Linked DNA regions of Homo sapiens. The protein of the gene in region 1 interacts with the protein of each later gene in a pairwise test. Each region holds a gene or a part of one and is shown on either strand. Other genes may lie near its edges.

The links.
Region 2: the proteins of ZDHHC15 (region 1) and TSNARE1 interact in a two-hybrid assay, tested with the Homo sapiens proteins (one large-scale study listed by BioGRID).

What each region holds. Positions count from the first base shown.
Region 1 is NC_000023.11:75,512,844-75,516,652, reverse strand, and holds part of ZDHHC15 (palmitoyltransferase ZDHHC15), read left to right. Parts: intron 1-3,809. UniProt on the Homo sapiens protein: Palmitoyltransferase that catalyzes the addition of palmitate onto various protein substrates.
Region 2 is NC_000008.11:142,344,042-142,347,850, forward strand, and holds part of TSNARE1 (t-SNARE domain-containing protein 1), read right to left. Parts: intron 1,852-3,809; coding exon 1,702-1,851; intron 432-1,701; coding exon 1-431.

The DNA.
Region 1 (3,809 bases):
TTGCCTGGGTTTTCTTGTAGGGTTTTTAAGGTTTTAGGTCTAACATTTAAGTCTTTAATCCATCTTGAATTAATTTTTGTATAAGGTGTAAGGAAGGGATCCAGTTTCAGCTTTCTACATCTGGCTAGCCAGTTTTCCCAGCACCATTTATTAAATAGGGAATCCTTTCCCCATTTCTTGTTTTTGTCAGGTTTGACAAAGAGCAGATGGTTATAGATATGTGGTATTATTTCTGAGGGCTCTGTTCTGTTCCATTGGTCTATATATCTTTTTTGGTACCAGTACTATACTGTTTTGGTTACTGTAGCCTTGTAGTATAGTTTGAAGTCAGGTAGCATGATGCCTCCAGCTTTGTTCTTTTGGCTTAGGATTGTCTTGGCAATGCAGGCTCTTTTTTTGGTTCCACATGAACTTTAAAGTAGCCTTTTCCAATTCTGTGAAGAAAGTCATTGGTAGCTCGATGGGGATGGCATTGAATCTATAAATTACCTTGGGCAGTATGGCCATTTTCATGATATTGATTCTTCCTATCCATGAGCATGGAATATTCTTCCATTTGTTTGTGTCCTCTTTTATTTAATTGAGCAGTGGTTTGTAGTTCTCCTTGAAGAGGTCCTTCACATCCCTTGTAAGTTGGATTCCTAGGTATTTTATTCTCTTTGAAGCAATTGTGAATGGGAGTTCACTCATGATTTGGCTCTCTGTTTGTCTGTTATTGGTGTATACGAATGCTTGTGATTTTTGCACATTGATTTGGTATCCTGAGACTTTGCTGAAGTTGCTTATCAGCTTAAGGAGATTTTGGCCTGAGATGATGGGGTTTTCTAAATATACAATCATATCATCTGCAAACAGGGACAATTTGACTTCCTTTTTTCCTAATTGAATACCCTTTATTTCTTTCTCCTGCCTGATTGCCCTGGCCAGAACTTCCAATATGTTGTTGAATAGGAGTGGTGAGAGAGGGCATCCCTGTCTTGTGCCAGTTTTCAAAGGGAATGCTTCCAGTTTTTGCCCATTCGGTAGGATATTGGCTGTGGGTTTGTCATAAATAGCTCTTACTATTTTGAGATACATTCCATCAATACCTAGTTTATTGAGAGTTTTTAGAATGAAGGGCTGTTGAACTTTTTCAAAGGCCTTTTCTGTGTCTATTAAGATAATCATGTGGTTTTTGTCTTTGGTTCTGTTTATATGATGGACTACGTTTATTGATTTGCATATGTTGAACCAGCCTTGCATCCCAGGGATGAAGCCAACTGGATCTTGGTGGATAAGCTTTTTGATGTGCTTCTGGATTCGGTTTGCCAGTATTTTATTGAGGATTTTGCATCAATGTTCATCAGGGATATTGGTCTAAAATTCTCTCTCTTTTTTTTCTTTGTTGTGTCTCTGCCAGGCTTTGGTATCAGGATGATGTTGGCCTCATAAAATGAGTTAGGGAGGATTCCCTCTTTTACTATTTATTGGAGTAGTTTCAGAAGAAATGGTACCAGCTCCCCTTTGTACCTCTGGTAGAATTCGGGTATGAATCCATCTGGTCCTGGACTTTTTTTGGTTGGTAGACTATTAATTATTGCCTCAATTTCAGAGCCTGTTATTGGTCTATTCAGGAATTCAACTTCTTCCTGATTTAGTCTTGGGATGGTGTATGTGTCCAGGAATTCATCCATTTCTTCTAGATTTTCTAGTTTATTTGCATAGAGATGTTTATAGTATTCTCTGAAGGTAGTTTGTATTTCTGTGGGATCAGTGGTGATATCCCCTTTATCATTTTTTTATTGCGTCTATTTGATTCTTCTCTCTTTTCTTCTTTATTAGTCTTGCTGCTGCCTCACAATTCTATCTCGGACTGCTGTACTAGCAGTGAGCAAGGCTCCATGGGCGTGAGACCCACCGAGCCTTGCATGGGATATAATCTCCTGGTGTTCCATTTGCTAAGACCATTGGAAAAGCACAGTATTAGGGCGGGAGTGTCCCGATTTTCCAGGTGCAATCTGTCATAGTTTCCCATGGCCAGGAAAGGGAATTGCCAGACCCCTTGTGCTTCCTGGGTGAGGTGATGCCCCGCCCCGCTTCGGCTCACACTCCATGGGCTGCACCCACTGTCCAACCAGTCCCAGTGAGATGAACCTCGTACCTCAGCTGGAAATGCAGAAGTCACCTGTCTTCTGTGTTGCTCACGCTGGGAGCTGTAGACTGCAGCTGTTCCTATTCAGCCATCTTGGAATGATCCTGTTGAATACCAGCTTAATTTAATAGTATACAAAACCCAGCCGTTTACAGCTCTGTTGCCCCCTTTATGCTATTATCACAAATTACATCTTTATACATTGTATACTCCTTAACGTAGATTTATCATTGTTGTTTTATGCATTTTTTCCTTTAAATTAGATAGTAAAAAGAGTTAAAAAAAACGTAAAACTCAATATTACTTGCTTTTGTAGCTACCTGTATAGTTTACCAGTGTTCTTATTTTTTTGTATAGCGTGGGTTACAGTGAGTGCCTTTTCAGTTTTTCTAAAGAATGCCCTTTGGCATTTCTTGAAGGGCAATTCTACTAGTGATCAGCTCCCTCAGTTTTTGTTTATCTGAGAATGTCTTGTTTTCGCTTTCATTCTTTGAAGTATAGTGTTGCTGGACATAGAGTTCTGTATATGTGTTGACAGATGTTTTTCTTTTTCTTTCAGCAATTTAAATATCACATTTCACTGCCTTCTAGCCTCTGTGGGTTCTTAAGAGAAATCAGCTGTTAGTCTTATTGTTTTTTTTTTGTTATGTAAAAAGTCAATTTTCCTGCTTTCAAGATTTTCTTTTTGTTTTTTGGCAATTTGACTATAATGTGTCTGATTGTGGATATCTTTTAGTTTATTCTATTTGGAGTTCATTGCACTTCTTGGATGTTTAGATTCATATTTTTTACCAAATGTATGAAGTTTTTTAGCCATCATTTTTTCAAATACTCTTTCTGTTTTTCCTCTCTTTCCTCTCACTTTGGAAGCCCCGTTATGTGTATATTAGTATGTTAGGATATAGGCTGTATATTAGAGTGTAGGCTCTATTATTGTATATAGTAGAGTGTAGGCGGCTGTCCTCACAGCCTCTACTGATCTGGGATGTGGAGGATGGTAGGCAGCCACTTTAAAATGTCACAGTATCCTCTTACTACAAAGCATCAGTTCTTTTCTTCACCAAGTCTTCCTCTCTGGTTATTGTAACAATTTTACTAGATTCCAGAGTTCTGCAAAAGTTTATTCTGACAGTTTTTGCCAGCTCATTAGTTGCTTTTGAGGAGGGATGTAAGTCTGGAGTACTCTTAGTTTTGGTGCCCAATAGTATCCATTCTGAGATTAAAAAATAAAAATAGCTATGATATAATTCTACTTGAAAGGTAGAAATTTTCCGAAGAGACATGAAGTCCTTGCCCACGCCTATGTCCTGAATGGTAATGCCTAGGTTTTCTTCTAGGGTTTTTATGGTTTTAGGTCTAACGTTTAAATCTTTAATCCATCTTGAATTGATTTTGTATAAGGTGTAAGGAAGGGATCCAGTTTCAGCTTTCTACATATGGCTAGCCAGTTTTCCCAGCACCATTTATTAAATAGGGAATCCTTTCCCCATTGCTTGTTTTTCTCAGGTTTGTCAAAGATCAGATAGTTGTAGATATGTGGTGTTATTTCTGAGGGCTCTGTTCTGTTCCATTGATCTATATCTCTGTTTTGGTACCAGTACCATGCTGTTTTGGTTACTGTAGCCTTGTAGTATAGTTTGAAGTCAGGTAGTGTGATGCCTCCAGCTTTGTTCTTTTG
Region 2 (3,809 bases), on another chromosome or scaffold:
GGGCGTGAGAGCCAGGGCCTGGGGCTTGCCGGAACCAGGGCTGGGGCCATGGGCCGCCTTCCGGAGGTCGCCCAGCTTGCGCCGCACGACGGCTCGTAGGTCCCGCCACTTGTGCTTCAGGTCCACAACGTCGCGGCGACAGTAGCCCAGCGCATTCACGGCCTGCAGGATGCGGCTCCACACGCGGTACCTGCGAGTGGGCTCGGCCTTCAGCAGCCCCGTGCCAAACAGCAGCTGGTGGTGCTTGCTCACCTTGGACACCAGCACCTCGGTCTCCTGCGGGCAGAAGTTGGGCTTCCTCTTCTTGGCCCGGGTAGTGCTGGGCCCCGCCATCCGGCCATGGGGCCCAGCAGCCGAGTCCTTCCTCGGGCCAATGGTGGGTGATGAGGTGGGCTCCGGCATCCGGCTGCCTTCAGGGGCAACCCCAGGCCCTGGAAAGGCACCAAAAGGCGGATGTTTAAGGCCCTGGGCCTGTGGAGGCAGCGGCCCCGGCGGCAGCTCCCTACGGCGCCTCCTCTCTGGTTTCTGCTTCAGGACACGGCTGCCTGGTCCTGGCCACCACCCCTCCCTGCTGGGTGTCCAGAGACCTGGGCCCACGATCCCCTAGCCCTGACACTGCCTCACCAGGTGCCATCAGCAAGCACGTAGCTTCTGGGTCACAGTGCCCCATCTCCAAGACAGCACACCACTAGCCCTGCCTGCCCCTGCAGCCACCACAGAGGTGCAGGAGCCGAGCAGGCTAGGTTGCGGCCCTGGACCCTCTCCAGGGTTTCCTGCCCTCAGGCCAGGGCTGGGCTGCTCCCGGGATCAGCCCTCGCCTGGGGACAGCCTTGCCAGCTGACATTTTGGAAGGCTCCTGCCTACCTGCCCACAGCACAACTAAGAGCCCTCTGAGCACAGGCCTCGGCTTCCCTCCCACACTTGGGCCAGGGCCGGTGGGGACACGGTGGCCAGCCTCGACTTCCCCTCCCGCACTTGGGCTGAGGCCGGTGGGGACGTGGTGGCCTGGTCGGCAGCCTCACCCCCCTACCATCCTGTGCCTCCACAGCCCTCCATCCTGCAAGGGAACAGGGCTGCACTGGCAACAGTGGCAAAGTCTCTGCGTCTTTGCTCACAGACGAGCTTTTTCACTAACCGGACCAGCTTCCTGAAGGCAGGGACAGTGCCCGACACTGCAGGTTCCCTGGTGCTGCATGTCTGAGCCCCCAAGGAGAAGCACTCAAGTACAGGCCTCTCCCTGGGGGCCTGGTGTCCCAGAAGGACCTGGAAGGGGCCCCTCCACCAGGAGGGAAGCCCACCAGGATACCTGCAGAGGTCACCGCACCTGTTCCTCCCCAAACCACAGCAAGCACTCTGCCACCCCTCACCGGCCCACTGCACAAGGACAGTCGGGCTTGAGGGTGAGGGGCCACAAGAGCAGGTCCAGAGCCCCCAGCGGGAGCACCCCTGCTCAGTCCTGAGCCTACAGGGTTGGCCAGCTCTGGCCACCACACAGCTTCCATCCTGTGGCCTGTATGGGCCGGCTGCACCCTTGACCCTACTCAGGGGAAGGCCTGGCAGGGGGCAGGGGATGCAGGTCCCTTGCCTCCTGGTCCCAGCCTCCTCCCTGCAGCTCCCACCTGCTGACCCTGCCCTCCTCAGCACCTGCATCTCCAAGCCGCCTTCCCAGGACCCCTGAGACCCAGCGTCTGAGTGAAGTACCTCGCTTCCTGGCCCTTGGGACAATAGGCGTGCCTGCTGGCCCCAGATCACCTTCCCCGTCCTTCCCCACACAGCGGTTCTGCAGCTTGCTCTCTGGCGACGGGCAGGGGAAATGGCGGATTCCATACTCGGTCCAACATCTAGCGCACTCTACGGACAGCAAGGGACAGTCACGATTACTCTCAGCTCAGGGCGCTCCTGGCAGTGCCAGGCCCCCATGCACGGACAGCAGACACCCAGGACCCGAGATGCTCCACTCAGGGCTCCTCCTCCAGGAAGCCCTCCCTGCCTGCTATATCCTCTGGATCATCCCCCTTCTGCTGAATGCCAGCAAGGAGTTCAGAACTTTAGGTGTTCCGGACTTTTCTCTGAACCAGTTCTGAAATGTGACTGCAAACTAGCAAACAACCCCCAGGGCTTGCAGGGGTAGCCACAGATTAATCCCTGGACAGCTATTACCAGTCAGCAACAAAGTACAAAATGGGAAGTGCGGCTCCAGCATCGTTTAAGGCAATTTGAAACTGCTGCGACCTCCACGCTCAGAATCATTCTACTGCATTTTATAAAAGTGCCACTCCGTAGCGTATGGGAGATGAAAAGCAAAGCCACACTGCTGTCCCCACTCGGCTTTGCGGAGGCAGAGACGCGTGCTCCCCATCTCCCGGCTCCCAGCCCCCGCACGGAACGCATCGTAATTTTCTCTAATTATTTCCATTTGTTCACAAAACATTTCTGGACACATTTCATTGAAATTCATTGATCCTCAGATGCACCTTATAAAAGCCTTTTAAAATCTCCAGAACCACGATGTGCCTTTCGATCCACGGCACCCCAGAGTCACAGACACGCCGTGTGCGCCAGGCTGAGGCCTCCGAAGCCAGACCCCGCGTGCCTGTCTGCAACCTGTTCTTCCCGGGACGTGTCCTGGTAGGTCACAAGGATGCTGCTGGCTTGGAAGCGCTTTCCAGCCACATCCGCGGCCTCCAGGGCCAGGTCGGCACAGTGGGTCCCAGGGCTGCATCCTTGAGCCAAGCGCCTGAAGCAGCAGCTCTTGGAAAAGGCCCTTCATACAACCCTCAGAGAAGTGACACTAGGGGCCGCCCTGGTGAGCTCCCTCTCAGGATCCGTCTAGGGGGACCCTACAGCCCAACGTGACAGGGAGGGAAGGACTTTCCCAAAGCCTCTCATCGGACCCCCACGAGGTGGGCGAGGGCCCAAAGGCTACCTGGTCCATCCTCCTGCCCCCAGACAGCACTGCCCAAACCACACAGGCAGAGACAGGCCTACGGCCACACAGACTCAGGAAAGGGCCTCCAGTGCCCAGCTCACTGCTCTGGACTGGGGCACGCTCACCCTCCAGCTCTGGGCCCTGGTGGGGGGAAGAGGGAGAAGCCTGCAGAAGGACGGGAGGGCAGCTGCCTGGCTCATTTCGGGGCGGAGGTTTCCGCAGGGCAGAGAAGTGCAGCAAAGTAGATCAGAGTCAGAAGACAACCCTCTGGAGGGGATGGAGAGGGAGCAGCCGCAGCCTGGAGACAGACACTGCCCTGGGAAAACCAGGCACCCACGAAGAGGCACTGACCAAGGCCCGGAGGGGGCCCAAGTCACAGAGGGAGGGATCCCAAGTCACAGACGCCTCTCAGTGTTTGATGAAGTGAGCCTCCAGCATGGGTCCCCCTCCCAAGAGGGCAGGGCCTGTCCCTCCAGCTCCCGGCAGGCCCTTCTCCCCTGGCATCCACACCATCCTCTCTCTGCACAGAGACACACTCTCCAAGCTGGAAACCCCGGACAATGGCCTGTGAGGGGATCCAGGCACTTGGTGACTGAGCTCAGCCTCTGCTCAGAAATGGGGTCCCACAGGCCCCCAGAGAGACCACAGGCCCTGCTGTCACTCAAGGACACGCCATCACCTCGCCACACTGCATCCGCTCACCCAAGTCCAGAAGGACACGCCATCACCTCGCCACACTGCATCCGCTCACCCAAGTCCAGAAGGACACGCCATCACCTCGCCACACTGCATCCGCTCACCCAAGTCCAGAAGGACACGCCATCACCTCGCCACACTGCATCCGCTCACCCAAGTCCAGAAGGACACGCCATCACCTCGC